Linked DNA regions of Homo sapiens. The protein of the gene in region 1 interacts with the protein of each later gene in a pairwise test. Each region holds a gene or a part of one and is shown on either strand. Other genes may lie near its edges. The genes, in order: DSG1 and PKP2.

Region 1 (10,237 bases):
AGGGTGATGGCACTTTGTTTCCATCATAAACAATAAATAACCTGGAGACATAAATTTGCCATAATGTTTTTACAATATGAAGTCATTTTCACCTGAGAGGAAATATGGAGTTACTGCATTTTCTTTTCTTTACTTTTTTTTTTTTTTTTGACAGGGTCTCAATGTGACCCAAGCTGCAGTGTGGTGGCATGATCTTGGCTCAGTAAATCCTCTGCCTCCCGACCTCAAGCAATCCTCCCACCTGAGCCTCCTGAGTAGCTGGGACTACAGGCGTGCACCACCACACCCAGCTAATTTTTGCATTCGTTTGTAGAGACAGGGTTTCTCCATGTTGCCCAGGCTTGTCTTGAGCTCCCAGGCTCAAGCCATCCTCCTGCCTCAGCTTCCCAAAGTGCTGGAATTACAGGCAGTAGCTACTGCGCCCAGTCTACAGCACTTTCTTGAGAAGAGGCATGACATAAAGAAAGCAATGTTTTAGAAACACTATTCTGGAAAAGAAATATAACATGGATTAAAATGAAGACTTTTGATACAAAATGTATAATTAGAAGTATGCACAGCAATGCCAGGTGAAGGGTGCCTGGAGAGAAACCATGAAAGCAGAAATGAAGACCGAAAGGCAAAGTGCAGACAATAGAAGCAATTAACTGTGGCTGTATTCAATTAAACACTATAAAATTTAAAGTATAAGATGAGAGATTTAGGTAAGCTACAAAGAAAGAAAGAAATTAAGTATTTTAGCAATCAGTTCTATTATGCCACAAATGTGTAGCCATTAACATTATAAGATTTCTCTCATGTCACCTCCAGTAAAACTGGGCTATGGATTCCCAAAGCATCTTATGCATGCTTCTGTTCAGCAAGTGGAAAAAAAATATGTTGTTTTCCCCATTCCACAGCCTGGAGCCACATGAGGGCAAGAACCATATTCTATCCATCTTTGTAATCTCAGTCCCTTAGTATAGTGCAAGGAACATAGTAGGTCAAAGAAATAAATGCCATAGAACTGGCCTGGGGATAATGTATTACAAGTAAAAAAAAAAAAAAATAGCCTGAAGTTGCACATGAAATCCAAACACTACAGTGGGACTGTGGCTAACCCACGTAGGTGTATGAGTAGAACAGTCTTCCAGAAGTAAGTAGTATTACTTCTGTGTCAGTGTGTTTGCAGCTATAAGGTAAGCTCCTTAAGAGCAGAGTTCAAAATTGTTTTGAACACAGTGCCTACTACAGTGATGAACATGTAGCAAAACTCAGAATTATCATATATTTTTAACTTCTTTAAAGCACAAGCAATAATAGCTCAGTCTCTTTCACTATTCTTATTTCATCATAAAATACTTACATATTAGATAGAGTTCACAGTTCTCAAAATTATTTGAGATTTTCCCTTTGTTCATAAACATTGTTTCTATATAGAGAAAAGCATATAAAGATGTGTTGCCGTTGAATTCCCATTCTAGAATTTACTAGAGAAAAATAATTAAGATTTCCCTTAGATCTGGGGAAAAAAAAGGAAGAAGAGTTAGGCTGTAGATTATTTTGGTCAATTATAAACAAAATCTCTCTAAGCATAGAAAACTAAAAATACAATTTTATTATAAATATATTTTTCTCAGTGATCAGTTTTTTTATTTATTTATTATTATTATTTTTTAATTTGAGATGAAGTCTCCCTCTGTTGCCCAAGCTGTAGTGCAGTGGCACCATCCCAGCTCACTGCAACCTCCCCCTCCCGAGTTCAAGCAATTCTCCTGCTTCAGCCTCCCGAGTAGCTGGGATTACAGGGGTCTGCCACCACGCCCAACTAATTTTTGTATTTTGTAGTACAGATGGGGTTTCACCACATTGGCCAGGCTGCTCTCGAACTTCTGACCTCAAGTTATCCGCCCCCATCAGCCTCCCAAAGTGCTGGGATTACAGCCATGAGCTACCACGCCCGGCCTAGTTTTTTAAATTTTAATGGCTACTTTCAGTCATCATGATTTCTGTTCACATCCTTGAGATCAATTTTGTGACTTCTCCTAAAATCAACTAATCTACTCACAAGTCATATTTCATACTGCAAGCTATAATCTATTCATCTAGTCAAGGGATTGTCAAACATTTTCTGTAAAGGGCAAGGGAAGTAATTATTTTAGGCTTTCTACGCCAACATGGTCTCTGTCATAACTTCTTAGCCCTGCTCTTGTGGAATGAAAGGAGCCACAATTTATATGCAAATGACTATGGCTGCGTTCAACTAAAAAAAGAACAAAAACCACACAGTGGACCCTATTTGACCCATGGCAATAATTTGCTGACGTCTACTTAAGTTCATTATTTTTACTTTTATTAGGAAAATTTTCAAATATACACAAAACAAAGAAAACCATATACTATCATTTAGATTTAACAGTTGTTAATATTTTGCCATATTTATTTTATCTGTTTCATTGCTGAATTATTATGAAGAAAATTTCCATCATCATGACATTTCACTCCTAATGTAATTCACATATCTTTAAAAATAGACATAATATGGCTAGGCATGGTGGCTCACACCTGTAATCCAAGCACTTTGGGAGGGCAAGGCGGGTAGAACGCTTGAGGTCAGGAGTTCAAGATCAGCCTGGCAACATGATGAAACCCCATCTCTACTAAAACTACAAAAAATTAGCTGGGTGTGGTGGCTCACACCTGTAGACCCAGCTACTCAGGAGGCTGAGGCATGAGAATTGCTTGTTCTGGGAGACAGAGTTTGCAGTGAGCTGAGATCACGCTACTGCGCTCCAGCCCAGGCAAGAGAGCTAGATGCATCTCAAAAAAAAAAAAAAGACATAATACAATATAACCTGATAAAATATATCATAATTTTCTACAGTTCTTATTTAAATTTTCCCAGATATTGGATATCCCAAAATTACTTCCACAGCTCTTTTGTCCAAACCAAAAATCCACTTACCAATCAGACTTTGCTGTGACTGCTATATATGAAAAAGAAAAGTATCTTTTAATCTAAAATGCAGGCCCCATCTCCCAGATGTATGTGGGTGTGACATTGACTCTTTGAGGAATAGTTTAATTTTAAACAATGTGAACAAGATCTACAATCAATATATCTCATGGTAATATTAATACAGTATAGAGGCAAACAGAAAATTTTTATTTATATAATGCCTAACATATTTACTTCAATTTCCCCTCGAGTTTTAAGTTTTTCATCTTTCACCTATTTTTTAAACAATGTGTAGAGTTCATTAGGATAATTTAGAACATATAAAACTAGAGGTTCACATATAACATTAAAACATAGTTAACAATAATTTGTTGTATATTTCAATATAGCTACAAGAGAAGAATTTCCCAACACAAAAAATAAACGTTTAAGGTGACGGATATCACAGTTGCCCTGATTTAATCATTATAACATTGCACAGGTATGCAAACATCACATGCACCCCAAAAATATGTACAGCTATTATATATCAATTTAAAAATACTTTATTGCTAAAAGGAAAAAAAAGCACATTCCAAAGAATTTCTCTGAAATATAAGTCCATGCTATGGATGCTATGTAAATGAAGGTGGATAAAACAGTTACTGTTATTAGGCTTGAGAACTTCTAGATCAATAAAATGTGTTACCTTTAGTTAAATATGCGGATTATTTTGTTTTTCAAAATTATTTTTTTAGAGGCTGATTATTTTGTTTTCTTAAAGGGTATTGCAATATTTCAAGCTAACAACAAATGTAGAAATGCAAACACTTAAGTTACATTCTGGAGTTTTCAATGCCTTGTGAAAAAGAGGAAAATCCTCTTCTCTAGAGAATTTTAGTCCCTATGGAAACCTTTGTCAGCTCACCAGGGAGATTCCAGACAGAAAAATCACCCCAAATTTCACAAAATTTTTATGAAATGAGAACTGTTGCTATGTACGTGCAGGTACACATACTAAACAATGTTCAGAGTAAAGAAAAGGAGTTCACTGAGATGGGAGAGAAGAAGCAACAGTGTGATGTGAGGTTACAGATGAGGTTGCTGGAAGAAAGAATTGAAAACATTGTGAATACGGAAATGAAATGGTTTGTGTTGCCTATGTTTTAAAGTATCTTAACTCATTGGCATTAGGAAGGAGGACCACTAAGTCAGGAAAAGGGACAGGACCAACTGAGATAAGAGTACATGAAGGAAAACTAATTAAATGTGCTCATTGAAAGCTGGAACAATGGTGGGGTTCTCAATTAAGAAAAGGCATAGGGTAGATTGAGAGAGGTGAGTTTGTAAAAACCGGAAGTTAAGGTTTGGAGTAAGAGAGAAGATAGACAACAAAAGCAATGATGTCTGCACTGTCCAATATGGTAGCCACTAGCCACATGTGGTTATTTAAATTTAAATTAAGCAAAGTTAAATATTCTCTTCCTTAGTCATAATAACCATATTTTAAATCCTCAATAGTCACATATTATAAATGGCTACCATATCTGACAGCATAGATAGAGAATATGTTCGTATTGCAGAAAGTTCTACTGGATAGCACTGTTCTGAGGACGTTAAAATGAGTAAGAAAGAGAAAAAGGCAGGGAAGGAGGCAAGGGAGAGAAAGTGATTAACAAATTCCCTCTCCCGCTGTGTTTAACATCGTATTGGCTCTCATGTAACTGCCAAGACAGACGCTGCTCTGCAGTATTGGAGTTCTATCACACCTCCTCTCCAGAAAGATGTTTGAGAGATTGCTGCCTTATGAATCCCCTAGTCATATAGGATTGTTGGAGCAAGGCATTGAGTTAGGGGTGGAGCCAGGGTTAGGTTTAAGGAAAGGTAATTTAATGGATGAAGGAGGCCCCCATGCATGCCCTAGCATCATGCCCAGAATCCGAGATGCATAAAACATTGACTCGCCACTGGAAAGCTGCAAGAGTAGGTGCAGTTGTCTCTGGTGCCCAGTGAGTCTTCTGCTATTCATGGTCAGACAACATGATACTAATATATTGCTCAGACTAAGTCATAGGTTAATACAGTCTATTTTATTTGACATTTCTCATTAGAGAAAATCGGCCAGCTCATCTTTCTAAATTTTATTTATTTACATCTGCTATTTACAATCATAAACATTCTTATTCACTGCAAATAAACATGGGCAGCCTATCTCCTCCCCTCCACACTGTATGATGGATAATATGGAAATTCAAACCACACATCTTCTTTGCCACAAATCTGTAGTGAAATGACAGCCTTCTATAGACCCTCTGACCCTCAGAGATTTTCTTCCTTTTGGAGACATTTTGAGTATCTTTTTGACCATAATCAACATCTTATCAGGTAGGTCTCTTGTTCTAAGTAGCCGTTTCAAACTCTGAGGGTGTCCAGTGTCTATGAGCTTCCTGCCACTCACAATATTTATACTAGACGTTGCCAGGGGAAGAGAAGAGAGTCCAAAAATATGTCCAAATGCTGCCCTGTGAAGGTTGCTATTTATTTTCACAAACCTCAGGGCTGCATTCAGTTTCCCGTCTACCTGTGTAGGCAGCCATTTCTTCAGTGTATTCCCTATGTTCTAATTGGCTCGCTGTACAGATTCTTGGCTCTGTGCTTAGGAATTGTCATTGACTTTTAACCCACCTCACCTGCTGAGCAGCTTTCTGTGTTTTCATTAGTATTTCAGGCACCGAATCTCATTTTTAAAGTTATTATCAGGATTTTAATTGGTGGTTCTCACTATTCACCCTTAAGTTTAGTAATATTTAAATTTTTATTTTGTTGCATTTAATAAAAGAATCATAAAGAAAGAAAAATAATTAGGGAGAGAAAATAATTTCTTTAGAGGGAAAATGGAGGATTCCTTAGACTGAAGGCTGGTCAGTTAATGGGAATTGTGACTTATGCAGAGGATCTAATAATTGTAAGTATCATGGTTTTACTTGTTTGAATTAATAACTTTAAAAAATCTCAGTCTTGCATTAGCATATTTTCTGTCTCTTAACAACCGAAAATAACTGAAACTTTCCCAACATCTACTAAAATGGAAAGTTTGTCATTTTCTACTATGACCTGAGGGTTTGGCTACAAACAGATAATGGAATGAATAAGATGAGCATTCAAGTTATACCTGCCTGTTTAATATGGGGAGAAACTAAACCACCTGTAAAGAAAGCATGGGGTGAGAAGCCCCCATCACCTGTATAACCCTCGGTATTTCTGTTCACTTTAAGAGCCTGCCACTGAAAACATTCAGTAAAGGAGTGAATCTTCCTTGCCCCATCAAGAGTCGCTTTTCAGCTGGAGGAAGGGTGTGTCCCCAAGTTTTTACCTGGGAGCAATGATGATCTTGTCAAGCATTTCAGTGAGACCAGCCCAAGTTTTTAGGGTGGGGATCCAGACTGGTTATACGTACCTTCAGTCCTTCTCCCAGAGGAAGGCAGAAACACCTCAAAGCCTGCATGTAAGAACATCTACTGAGAAATTATTTTAATCAGACACCAGCTGAGTGGGAGAAAGAAAAAGAACAGAGAAGAACAAACAAAACTCCCTTGGTCTTGGATGTAAGAGAATCCAGCAGAGATGGACTGGAGTTTCTTCAGAGTAGTTGCAATGCTGTTCATTTTTCTGGTGAGTGGATTCTGGTAAAAGTCCTTCATAATCGTGCCCATTGTAAACAAGTGAAAACTTTTTAGAAAATGTTAGTGGGCATTATTTCTAACCTAAACCCATTGAAAATGTATATTAATGACAAGATGATTTTATGAACTAGATTTTTCAATAGCATTTCTCTCTTTAATTGAAGACTCAAGATCATGTTAATGCCTCAGTGTCAACTCATTGTATTACATCTCTGACACTGAAGTCATTGCTAAGTCATGCTGGGAAAAGACTGAATTTAGGAAATTCCTATCGCTAGTTAGTAGCACTTTGTCGTTCAAAATCTCTTCTGCAAGAGGGCTTTTAAACTAAATATCACAAGTGTGTCTGGATTTTTAACCTGTTTTTTTTTTTATTTTTTTTGTGTGTTTGGTGGTGGAATTACTCTAATTTTTAAAACATAAAAATAGCACCACATAATTTAAAATCGTAGCAGTTTGTGGCTGGTCTCGCTATCCAAATAAAGTCATCAGTTGCATATTTGGTTAGAATCTGTATCACTACTATAAAAAGCCCCGCACTATTTAACTATGATTTTATTTAAAACATTTTTAATTTCAAAAAACGGCAGTACAGGAGGTTTATAAATGACATATTAAGTGAAGAAGTGGCTATAATTAAAGAGTAAGTATAATTATTATTACACTCGATCTTACTACTGGAATGTCAGTGATGACTGCGATATAAAAGTTGTGCACTTGATCGTCTGACGAATGTAATGAAATACTTTATCATTGCCCCCTTACATGTAATTAGTTTTCTTGCTGTAGAGATAATACTAAGTGCACCACTAATGTATTATGTCAATTTCACTTTCAGTGAAAATTTGAAAATTGTAATCTCTCTCATAGTAAGGTTAATGTAATTCAAAAAGGCAGGTGCCAAGTAAATTGCCCTCCAGCTTGGCAGGATGTATAGTGCTGTGGTTCACATTTGTTTCTACTTGCTTAATTTTTGAACTGGAATGTTGGGTTGGTTGGTATAATAAGTTAGATCTTTGATTCAAAGTATGCTGGTTAGTTTGAATTCAGTTTTATTAACTAAGGCGGGACATAATCAGTGGATTTAGTTATAAATGAGCATCAGTAAGCTGGTGGCTTTGGTTCCAAGCTTTCCTTCAAACATTAGTCCTATCCCATGCTCTTTTCAGTGGATATTTAGGATCAGTTGATTTCATTACTTAGGATTTGGTAGGGATCACTGATCATTATACAGTATGTCATTTGAAATATGAGAGTTTCATATTGTCAGTAATCAAGCACTTTTACTTAAAATTTCAAATAAATTTGATCCATTAAGAGCTATTATAGTTTTAGTTGATCAGCTTGTTCAGATAGGTGTACACTAACTTTCATAGAATCTCTAAGATGTGCCTTATTTGTTGATTTATTTATTTCAAATTAATTATAGCATATCAAATTTCTTTAAACAGCCACTTCCTATTTAGTCATTCTTCAATAAAATGTATCATCATCAAAATCATATATCTTTATTGAACTTTCTCTAGCTGTGCCTAGATTTTTTTTTGTTGGCTTATGGGGGTTTTTTTGGGAATGGGGGAAGAGGAGGTTACCTTATTTTATATTGAAATTAATCACAAGTCTCCCACATGCCTTATGAAAATTTTTTCTCAAAGAACTTACACTATCATGAATTACAATGTTTCATTTTCACGTTGACATCATAGGTTTTTTTGGAAAACATTTCACTTTCTAAGGTTTGGAAGATCAAAATTTATTTTAAGTACAGATTTTACCACATGGGATAATTTTGGTAATTGTGCTTTGGAGTTTCCTAATCTGTATTTTTCTTTAAAATACTTTTTTTCTTCATAAAACAACCACCACTATAGCAAATTCTTTCAGTTATCTTTCTCCTAGTCTCATTATAAATGCATGCTTTTACCAAAAAATGAAAAAAAATTTATGTAAAGTCTTTATATTCGTCTCTACTCAAAGTCAATAAGCGGGAACCTGCATTAGGAAGCGTATTTGTACAATTGTTAAGGCCTTTAAGATATTTAAATTGGTAGTGTCTTTTAAGCAAATCTACCTGAGAACTGGGTAACTATTTGTTTGCAAGCATACTGTGTATTCATCTCAATGCATCTGAAGGTTGTGAACCTTGTTCAAATGAGTGGGTTGAATCAGGGAGAACAAAGCTGGAGGAGCTGCTCTTACAGCAATCAAGATCGCTCTATGGCTATTCCATTGTTCTGACAAGTCTCCTGGACAGGCAAGAGATTACACCTGCTATAACACTGCAAGTCAAACACATTTTGTTAATTCTGCATCTATTTTTCATTCTTCTTTTTGTTTCCATGTAATCAGTGTATGGAGTAGAGAAAGGAGTTAGAATGTATTTTCTCTAGGCCTGAGAACAATGCTTCTTATGCACCAAATAAAAGAAATCTATGTGCATGTATATGACAATGGTAAAAAGTACAGCATGGTCACTGTGGGAAAGCAAAACAGAGCCAGAGGGATCTCTATGGTTTTAATGATTTCTGAAAATTACTTGCAACTTTGCCAGGTCCAATTAGTCCATTTAAGTCAATACAAATCTGAAGATGTCTTTTTCTAAAAAGGTAAATTTCTGCAGCTCAAGCTCAAAGAACAGAGAAAATGACTTTTATCTATGACCATGAATGATCTGATTATTTTGGTTCATTATAGTAACCATTTTCCCCCTCTTTCTATGGGTTAATATTTCATTTCGAAACAAACAAACAAAAAAAAACCCAACCCTCTGACACCTGATAAACTAACTCCACAGTTTGAACCGAACTGAAATTCTGTAAAATATGAGCAGGAGTTTTTAAGAGTACTTTCATCACTCAGGCTAAAATACACAGAAAATAATACACATTTCATTACATAGTTCCTAAACTTACTTGAAGACATCTTAAGTCCCCAAAATTGTGTTCACAGATGCCTAAAGCAAGAGAAGAACTAACAAATTAGTACAGACCAAACAGAAGACAAGCAAAAGAGAGAGCTCTTTGTGCTTTCTTGAGCGTGTATTATAGTGATATGTAGTATAGAGATCAGTGTTTCAGTAAAATATTTTGTAGAAAATGGAAGGAATATTTCTGTTCACGTATTCAGTGAAACTTACAAATTGCATTCAAGTGTCATCATTAACAGTTATATGGTGTTCATAAAAGCTTTATTATTTCGCTGTAGATTTAGGATTAGCATCTTCTATCACCTTTACAGAAACAAGGAGTACACATTTATCATCGCTCAATTGGTTTGAGTTGCCACAAAGTAAAAACATTTTGTCATCCCTGTTTTAGGAAAAGAGTAGAAACTAAAGCACTGAAGAATGCTGTCTTAAATCTGAAAGGCTGACCCTAGAATAAGATTCACTTATTTAACAAATCTCATCAATCTAGAAAATTATCTTATCTATACCCAGAGCACTTAATTTCTGGTAACTCTTTCTCCACAACACATTCATCAAAGACCTGGTTGCTGAGTATCCCTGTGTCCTAATAGACATTGCCTAACATATCAGCAGGAAGCCTGCTGTGCCAGGCACCGCAATTAGATTTATAATGCTCCCTCATCTCAGGGAACACCCTTGCCCAGTGCTGGGTCATGCCACCCTTGCTGA
Region 2 (9,688 bases), on another chromosome or scaffold:
AGGCAGAGGTTGCGGTGAGGTGAGACTGTGCCACTGCACTCCAGCCTGGGCAACAGAGCAAGATTCCGTCCCCCCCCCAAAAAAAAAACTAAGTTGATTTTCATAATCACAGTTTTGTGAACAATTTTATTATGTAATTGGTTAGATTGAATGTATTTATGAAATCAAATTGACAAGTCTCTATTGTGGTTCCATTACCTGTTTCTGGGCATATTTATAAAAAACCAACTACAGTTTCTTTTATAGTAAGCAAATGACAGAGAACTGCTAAACAAGCAAGATCTTTATATAGCCTGCTTCTATTAGAGAGAAGAGAGGTGCACTCACATTCAGAAAAGCGTCTTTTCTTTCAATCTTCTAGCACTGAGTGTGGTTTAAAAAAAGTGATTTGGTTCACACTGAGCTCTAAAAGGAGGATTTCTGGAGATGAAGATACATGTAGAGGTGCCCACAAAAACAGGTGTGGTTAAATGTAACCACAGAAATCAGCAGGTGTTCGCTATTAGTATTGATTTAAATGCTGCAGGTAATTGGGCTAACAACCGTGAGCAGTTGTCCTCACAGTGTGGATTCACGATGGTCTTTTAGAAGGAAAGAGCCTGAAAGTCTAAAAGCTTATCATCTTACTGTTATTTGGTCTTTCTACAGTAATCTCTGGCTTGCAACAGCTCTCGTTCTCCACAAATCTTAAAAGATTTAACTTCTCCCATTACAGTAAAGTTGAGGACATGTTATTCCAGGTAAGACATGGGATCTTGCCACTTATTCAGAGGAATTTGTATAGCAATTCATATTTGAATGGATCCTTAAAGTCATTTACTAGCAATAGTAGGAGCTTAAAAGAAAGCAGAAAATATACTGAGACTCATCAAAGACCATACGTATGTCCGCACTCCTGAGTTGGTGAAGGAATTTTTTTTGTTTTTTGTCTGTCTGTGTTGGCATAAAACATACGATTCATTTCCTTGGACTTACATATTTTTTAAAACTATATTTTATCTTCTATTCTTACTTTCCAAGAAGAACAACCAGATATTGATGGAAATCACAACAGCCCAAGTAAGCATTTGCTTAGGCTGGAAAATAAGTAGAATTTGTTGGTTTAGAAAACTATAGTTGGCTGGGCAGGGTGGCTCACACTAGCAATCCTAGCACTTGGGGAGGCTGAGGTGGGTGGATCACTCGAGTCCAAGAGTTTGAGACCAGCCTGGGCAATATAGTGAGATCTCGTCTCTACAAAATTTTAAAAATTTAAAAATTAGCTGGGCATGGTGGCATGGGCCTGTAGTCCCAGCTACTTGGGAAGCTGAGGTGGGTGGATTGCTTGAGCCCTGGAGACAGAAGTTGCAGTTAGCTGAGGTTGGGCCACTGCACTCCAGGCTGGGTGACAGAAAGCAAGACTCTGTCTCAAAAAGGAAAAAAAAAAAGGGAACACTATGGTGAAAAATTGTTTCAAAGCAGATGAAAGTCTAATAAAGTTTTATACTATTGAAAATTTAACCAATAGTTGTACAGTGCTATATTTTGTGACCAGTTAGCTCACATAATCAACCATGAGAAACAACTTGGTGTATCAGGTATATGCTAGAAAGTACTGGCTATGAGTTCTTAAAACGTTGAATATGCCAGGGACAGAACAGCTCTCCTGCAAGAGTGGGCCACACATACCACATGCCAGTGTGCGACTGACTAATCCATTGCTGTTATCACTCACACGATATACCAGCCACTAGAGTCCTTATTTTTCAGGAGCCCCCTAAGCAATTCAAGAGCTATCTTCTGATATACCAATTTATGACATTTGGGGGGCAATCCTCAAATCACTGCTCTAGGTAATGACAAAAACACATTTTAAATGTCCCCCTCCCACTTTTTTTATTGAGATGGAGTCTTGCTCTGTCGCCCAGGCTGAAGTGCAGCGGTGCGATCTTGGCTCACTGAAACCTCTTCCTCTCAGGATCAAGCGATTCTTGTGCCTCAGCCTTCCGAGTAGCTGGACTACAGGTGTGTGCCACCATGCTGACTAATTTTTGTATTTTTAGTAGAGATGGGGTTTTGCCATGTTGGCCAGGCTGGCCTCAAACTCCTGGCCTCAAGAGTTCTACCCGCCTCGGGCTCCCAAAGTGCCAGCGCTTTAGGCGTGAGCCATTAAATGGCCCTTTTATATCACAGGTGTTCATGTCATATTTTGTTTGAGGTATTAGAATATGTAATTGTAGAATTTGTTATTATAAACTGGTAATTTAGCATCCTGGTGAAGTATTAAATAGAAATATCCTGGAAGTATCTAAATCTGTTCATTTCTCAGCCAGGCACGGTGGCTCATGCCTGTAATCCCAGCACTTTGGGAGGTCAAGGTGGGCAGATCACTTGAGTCCAGGAATTTGAGACCAGCCTGGGCAAAAAGGCAAAACCCCATCTGTACAAAAAAAATACAAAAATTAGCTGGGTGTGGTGGCGTACACCTGTAGTCCCAACTACTCAGGAGGCTGAGGTGAGAGAATGGCTTGAGCCCGGGGGGCAGAGGTTGCAGTGAGCCAAGATGCACTCCAGCCTGGGCAACAGAGACAGACGCTGTCTCATGAATGAATGAATGAATACACTGTTCATTTCTGTAACTGTGTCTTTACTTTGGCATTCCTGCCAATTATTTGCTGAGATATCTCATGAGACTTTAAGACTTGTAAGACTTTATAACTTCCATGGCAAATATCACATTATACTCCCAATAATATAAAAAAAGGTGAATTTATAGAACTCACAAATTATTTTTTGCTTTAAAATACTTACTACAGGTTTTCTTTGTAATGACTTTCAAGTCATTATATTTCCCCTGCCTCTCACGTGCCAGGGTTAACCCCTCCCAACTGATTCATAACTGCTAACCCAACTTTTCTTTTTCTTTTTTTTTTTTTGAGACAGATTTTCACTCTTGTTGCCCAGGCTGGAGTGCAATGGCACGATCTCGGCTCACCGCAACCTCCACTTCCCGGGTTCAAGTGATTCTCCTGCCTCAGCCTCCCAAGTAGCTGGGATTACAGGCATGCGCCACCACGCCCAGCTTATTTTTTCTGTACTTTTAGTAGAGACAGGGTTTCTCCATGTTGATCAGGCTAGTCTCAAACTCCCGACCTCAGATGATCCACCCGCCTCAGCCTCCCAAAGTGCTGGGATTACAGGCGTGAGCCACTGCGCCCGGCCTCTTTTTTTTTTTTTTTTGAGACAGGGTCACTCTGTTGCCCAGGCTGGCGTGCAGTGGTGCATTCAGAGCTCACTGCAGCCTTGAACTCCTGGCCTCAGGCGATTCTCCTGTCTCGGCCTCTCAAAGTGCTGGGATTACAGGAAAGAGCCACCATGCTAGGTCTGTTCCTACTTTAAATCCACCAAATCTGTCAAATGTATTTTCACAAAACTCCTGCACTTTTCATGTTTCTTCCCTGTGGAAATATCTGTGACTCACAATTATCAAATTCTTTAACTTGCATTCAAGATCAGAGGAGAGGGGTGAAGGAGGCTGCCTATAAGGGACACAACTGAACTAAGTTAACTGGGCAAGAGAAGGAAGGGAGGGAGACAAGGAGGGGTAGAAATACCAAGCAAGATAAACTGCCTGTGTGTGTTTGGTGGGGAGCAAGGGTAGTGGCCCCAGGGATGAAGTTTGAGAAGTTGCAGGCATTAGATCACGAAGAACTTGGAATGCTGTGTTCAATAATTTTACTCTTGCAGATAACAGTAAGAAACTGAAGGAATTTAAACTGGGAAATGATGCAATGAGATTTTAGAAAGTTCACTCTAGCAGCTGTGTGGAGAATGGATTGGAGTGGGGCCACGTTAAAACAAAGAGGTTATTTTCTCTTCCAAAGAGATTTTGACAGAAAGAACTGTATCTTACACTACCACTTCTAGCACAGTCTTGTATCAGTACTTGACAAGTTAATTGTTGATTAGTCAGATTACCTGTACATTAGAAATATCCTAGTTACACAAATTCAGTTTGCGCTTAATCATTCAGGCAGGTATGTATTCTGTGGCTCACCAGAATGGAACTAAAATGTGAGTATGATAGTCACATACATGCTTTTGTCTTGGGGTAGATGGAAGGTGCTCAAATAGTTTCGACTGTTCTCTGTCATTCTGGGTATACGGAGAGGAAGGAAAGTTGCTTCCCCAGAATGTAGGCAGACTTTTATTAGAAAAGCAGACTTTGGGCCAGGTGCAGTGGCTCATGCCTGTAATCCCAGCACTTTGGGAGGCCGAGGCGGGTGGATCGGTCAGGAGATCGAGACCATCCTGGCTAACATGGTGAAACTCCATCTCTACTAAAAATACAAAAATTAGCCGGGTGTGGTGGCACACACCTGTAATCCCACTTACTTGAGAGGCTGAGGCAGGAGAATCGCTTGAACCCGAGGAGACGGAGGTTGCAGTGAGCCGAGATTGTGCCACCGCACTCCAGCCTGGGCATAGAGCGAGACTCCATCTCAAAAAAAAAAAAAAAAAAAAAAAGAAAAGCTGACTTTGTTCATTTTGGCAAGGTTGTTTCTATATTTGAATAATATATGTTTACTATCATTCTTTTATCTGTATGGCTTGTGTATTTATCTGTAATATTTTGGTGGCCTATAAATTCATATTATCTGTCAAGAAAAGTTCCCATTTGTTTTCATTCTTCAATGAAAAAGAGTAATCAAGATCCAATAAGCTTGATGCTCACCCACACCCACCCCATAAATAGCTTACTGAGAGATTCAGAAAAAATAATCCATTAAGCTTCTAATGAAGGTTTTCATCCACAAATTCTGGAAATCAAGGAATTGCAGAACTTTGATTATGACTGCTTAGGTTAACGAATGTTATTAAGTCTAAAGCTGATTATTCCAAGAATATAAATATGTGAATTATTTTAATAGTAATGGCAGGTTGTGTTTTCAAATGCTTAAGTTTCTTTTTTTCCAACTGTCCATTTTTATTTAAATCTACATATTGAGCTCTCAAGCTTTTGTCTTTAAACACTTTAAGAACATTACAACTGTTTTTATGTCCAATATCCAATTACCAGAAATGGCATTATAGAAAAGATACACAGGCCGGGTGCGGTGGCTCACGCCTGAGATCCCAGCACTTTGGGAGGCAGAGGTGGGCGGATCACCTGAGGTCAGGAGTTCGAGACCATCCTGGCCAACATGGTGAAACCCTGTCTCTACTAAAAATACAAAAAATTAGCTGGGCTTGGTGGCGGGTGCCTGTAATCCCAGCTACTCGGGAGGCTGAGGCAGGAAAATCGCTTGAACTCGGGAGGCAGAGGTTGCAGTGAGCCGAGATCGTACCACCGCACTCCAGCCTGGGCAACAAGAGCGAAACAAAAAAAAAAAAAAAAGAAAAGAAAAGACACACAACAGGTTTTTAATGTTTTTATTATGAGAGCACTTGATAGTTTGTTTAGTAGTCTTACTCTACTAGTCAGGGGAGCCAGGTGGCTCACTCTAATAGAAAAATAAAGTTTTCTCCTAATTTATTGTCTATTCCCACTTGCATTGCTGCCTTTTACTGCTAATTTACTTCCTCAGGAGAAGTAGGGTATTTATCTTCATATATTTGTAGACATGCACAAGATACCTGAAGTCCAACATTTGTCTCAGAATTGTATAATTTAAACTTGTTGAATGTCATCTGAGATGGAAATAAATCATCTTATAGGCCATATTAATCATCTGATTTATAAACTCCAGAGGTTTTAGCATCATATTTATTATATTTCATTACTATCATAGTTTGCCAATAATATGCTTGTTCTCTCAGAGAAAAAAAATCAAAACTTTTAATAATTTGTATTGATCAGACTAGGAATTCAATTGTAGGGTAAAATCAATGTTAAAATGTGAAGATAAAATAATGTAACTATGTATAGGCTTATTTTAATAAATGAGAAAAAACTGTAAAGTTGCTATCTAAAACTTTGAGGAAATGTGAACTACAAATACCTAGAATATTTAATACAAAAGCTACCCTCTGTTCCCATGACTGTGGAACTCTTAGCACAGGGCATACAGATAACAACAGTCTTTTAAAAGCCTAAATGAACAGTCTTCCTTCCTTTAAGGTAATTTCCTGCGTCTTATCTGTCACATATAGAACAATGTACTTTCATAATCAAACCCTGCTACTCTGGGTCTACTTGTGGTTTCTTACAGTTCCACGGATTCTGAAGCATCCTTACTTTACCCTCACACAAAACTTCACCCCTAAGAGATGTGTTCTCAACATTTCCAGGGGTGTGAAGTTTTTTTTGTTGTTGTTGTTAACTACCATTTTGTTAACATTCTATTTCACTTACTATAATCAGAAGGATTTCTTTAATTATTTTTGGACTTACCGAACTCAATCTGCTTGGCCCTGGACAAAAAGTGGCTCACAGGCCATATTACACAGACACAGAGGTGCATTTAATCCAGTGTGCTACTGACACCTCACATTCAGAGCAGAGGGCCATGACCCTGCCACCCGCCATCTCACTCTTTTTTTTCCCTTTCCTGATCCCTCCTACTTTCTGAACGATTAGTCACCTTGCTCCCCAGAATTGCTTCATTCCTGGGATTCCTTTTTGTCAAAGGAAGAATTTATGCAGAATTTGAACAATGTCTAACTTTTTTTTAACAGTAGCGCCTAGTAACTACCTTTCTTTTGCTACCCTGAGCCAATTTTCAATTCTCTCTCCAGAATTCACTTTTTTTTTTTTTTTTGAGATGGAGTCTCACTCCATCGCCCAGGCTGGAGGCAGTGGCATGATCTTGGCTCACTGAAACCTCTGACTCCCAGGTTCAAGCAATTCTCCTGCCTCAGGCTCCCTAGTAGCTGGGATTACAGGTATGCACCACCACACCTGGCTAATTTGTTTTTTATTTTTAGTAGACACAGGGTTTCACCATGTTGGCCAGGCTGATCTCAAACTCCTGACCTCAGGTAATCCACCCGTCTCGGCCTCCTAAAATGGTGAGACTACAGGCATGAGTCACTGCGCCCAGCCCAGAATTCACTTTGATCACAGATATTGAAAAGCAGCTTCACCAAGGAAATCACCTAAGATAATAGTGTGCCTCAAGTTTTGTGGTGGATTTCCAAAGAGGTTGTAAATATAATTGCATTAGGAGATTGTTCACTGTCCTTTATAAGTAGTAAATACAATTTAAAACACAATTTTCTCTCCACTCAGATACCTGGGGTGGGGGCGGGGGGGGGGGGAGAACTGTGTAGCAAGTAGTACTTTTAAGGCAAGTGTAATAAATAGGATATGGATGCTTTTAATTTTTCCCTTTGCCAATACTTGCAATTCTTAAATGTCTTCTATTTTAGAAAAATATTTTAACTATTAGCTACAATACAGACTTACTTCACAATGCTGCTATACACCTCTGAAGGCCCCTTCCCAAAGAGTTACAGCCAACTTTAAAATGTTCAGCACAGTTAAAAATAACACCAAAAGTCACTGAGTGATTTACAATGAAAACCACCCAGCTATACTAAGGCATTGGAAAGAAGACAAAGGGTTAAAGACTCTTGCAAGATACTTATCAACAAATCAGCCACATTTATCTCATCTCTGCTTTCAGCAGGTTATCCGCTGTCTCAACCTTACAGGTTTGTCAACAACTCAGAATTCTCCAGGGCCCTGGAGCTAATAGCAGTTAACATCAGGGTCTTTTCTTCCTGGAATTTCTTGTGTTGATACAGGATTTTTTCCAGACCAGCACTGTTTCAACAATTGCTTGTCTGTTTCAACTTGAGAGACAGGATAGTAACATGGAAATAATAAAAATTATACTCAGAACCACCACGAGCCCCCAGACCTTTTCAAAGAAGTTTAATTAAACAATACATACGAACCACCCCTGGTAATTGTTTCATGGCATGCTAATGTTAAATTCCTTTGAAGCTGATTTCCTTTTTGAGTCTTAGAAAGCTGAGGCTTTAAAGTAAGTAGGTGTTGTTTGCTGCCTTATCTCTCTGTCTGATTTGTACTTCTGTGTAGGCTGCAGAGTGTATTTCAGCTTACTGGAAAGCTGCTGTTGCAATCAAAATATTTCAAACGCTTTGTTCCTTAGTTGGAACAGCCAGTCAAGTAGTTGACCCAAGCATTATAGCAGAAGGACCAAGATAGTGCCCTTTGTTCTACCATATCAACTCTGTGAACTGTGAAATATTCATTCTGTTCCCTCCTAGAATGATCTTTCTCCAGTCACCTCCCTATGTCCAGTCCTACTGAATTTTTGAGATCTACCTCCAGGAAGCTTTTCAAAATTTCCTGCCACCAGGAGTAACTTACTTTTTTTTTTTTTTTTTTTTTTTTTGAGATGGCGTTTCGCTCTTGTTGCTCAGGCTGGAGTGCAATGGCGAGATCTCCGCTCACTGCAACTTCTACCTCCCGGGTTCAAGCGATTCTCCTGCCTCAGCCTTCCGAGTAGCTGAGTAGCTGGGATTACCGGCATGTGCCACCACGCCCGGCTAATTTTGTATTTTTAGTAGAGATGGGATTTTACCATGTTGGTCAGGCTGGTCTCAAACTCCCGACCTCAGGTGATCCTCCCGCCTCGGCCTCCCAAAGTGCTGCAATTACAGGCATGAGTCACTGCGCCCAGCCAATTTACACTTCTAAACTCCATAATATATTAGCCATTCTTTTGGGTCACTTACTACTTTTTATTTGGTAATGTATTTTTCTAGCGGTTGGCTTCCTTCTTCAAACTTTTTGCTTTAAAGCAAGCAGAGTCTTTGTGTTTAATTCAGCACCTGCACAGCGCCCGGCATGAAGAACATACTCATTTGATGCTTGCTGAATTCATCACACAGGTGATGCATTACTTTGTAGAAAGAACAGATTATGTGTGGAGTTGGGATTAAATTTCCAACCATTGCTGACAGACACATACTTCATATGTGAGATGGATTCTCATATCTATCTCAGCAATTGTTTCAAGAATATAATGAAGATTCTGGAATAGGCACATAGTAGATGCTCAGCAACATTCCCTTTTCTTCTGTTCATGGCTCCATTCCCTCCATTTATGGAAGAGTTGTATCTGCTTGCTCTCTTCCTAGCTGGCCATTCTCAGAGGATAAGAAAGAATATCTAATATGCCTCCTGTGTCTCCTACGCAGGGGAAGCTGATTTGGTTTCAGTTTAGCACTGGACCTATGGGCACAGAGAATGAATGGGTGTAATGGCTCCACTTTTCAAAGACTGGCCTCACTCATCCCGCAGTCTTTAGTCAGACCCCTAAGTCTAAATAAATATAAGGTCTTTCCCTCCATGTATTGCAGCAGTTCTGTGTTTTCTAGACCTCCCCAGCCTTTCAGAACTTCCTCAATTTTATTTAAAGAAAAATGGGAGGGGGCCACGGAGAGGCTTAGCATCTAACAAATCCCACTTTGTATTAATCATTTTAAAACTTAATGATAAAACTGATAAGTTTAAAATTCAGGTTTGGGAGTTTAAATACCAGCTCTGCCACTTACCATCTATTAGAGCTTCAGTGTTACTTAACTGCTTAGTTTCCTCATCTGTAAAATGAGGATGAAAATACCTAACTCACAAGTTTTTAAATACATATATATATATATATCTCAAATGAATGCAAACCACATCGCCCAATTCTTGGCACATAGTATGCACTCAGTTATATTAACTACGATC

Evidence for each region.
Region 2: the proteins of DSG1 (region 1) and PKP2 interact in a two-hybrid assay, tested with the Homo sapiens proteins (one study listed by BioGRID).

The regions. Positions count from the first base shown.
Region 1 is NC_000018.10:31,311,760-31,321,996, forward strand, and holds the start of DSG1 (desmoglein-1 preproprotein), read left to right. Parts: upstream 1-6,400; 5' UTR 6,401-6,541; coding exon 6,542-6,589; intron 6,590-10,237. UniProt on the Homo sapiens protein: Component of intercellular desmosome junctions. Involved in the interaction of plaque proteins and intermediate filaments mediating cell-cell adhesion.
Region 2 is NC_000012.12:32,885,592-32,895,279, forward strand, and holds part of PKP2 (plakophilin-2), read right to left. Parts: intron 9,188-9,688; exon of another isoform or gene 8,689-9,187; intron 1-8,688. UniProt on the Homo sapiens protein: A component of desmosome cell-cell junctions which are required for positive regulation of cellular adhesion.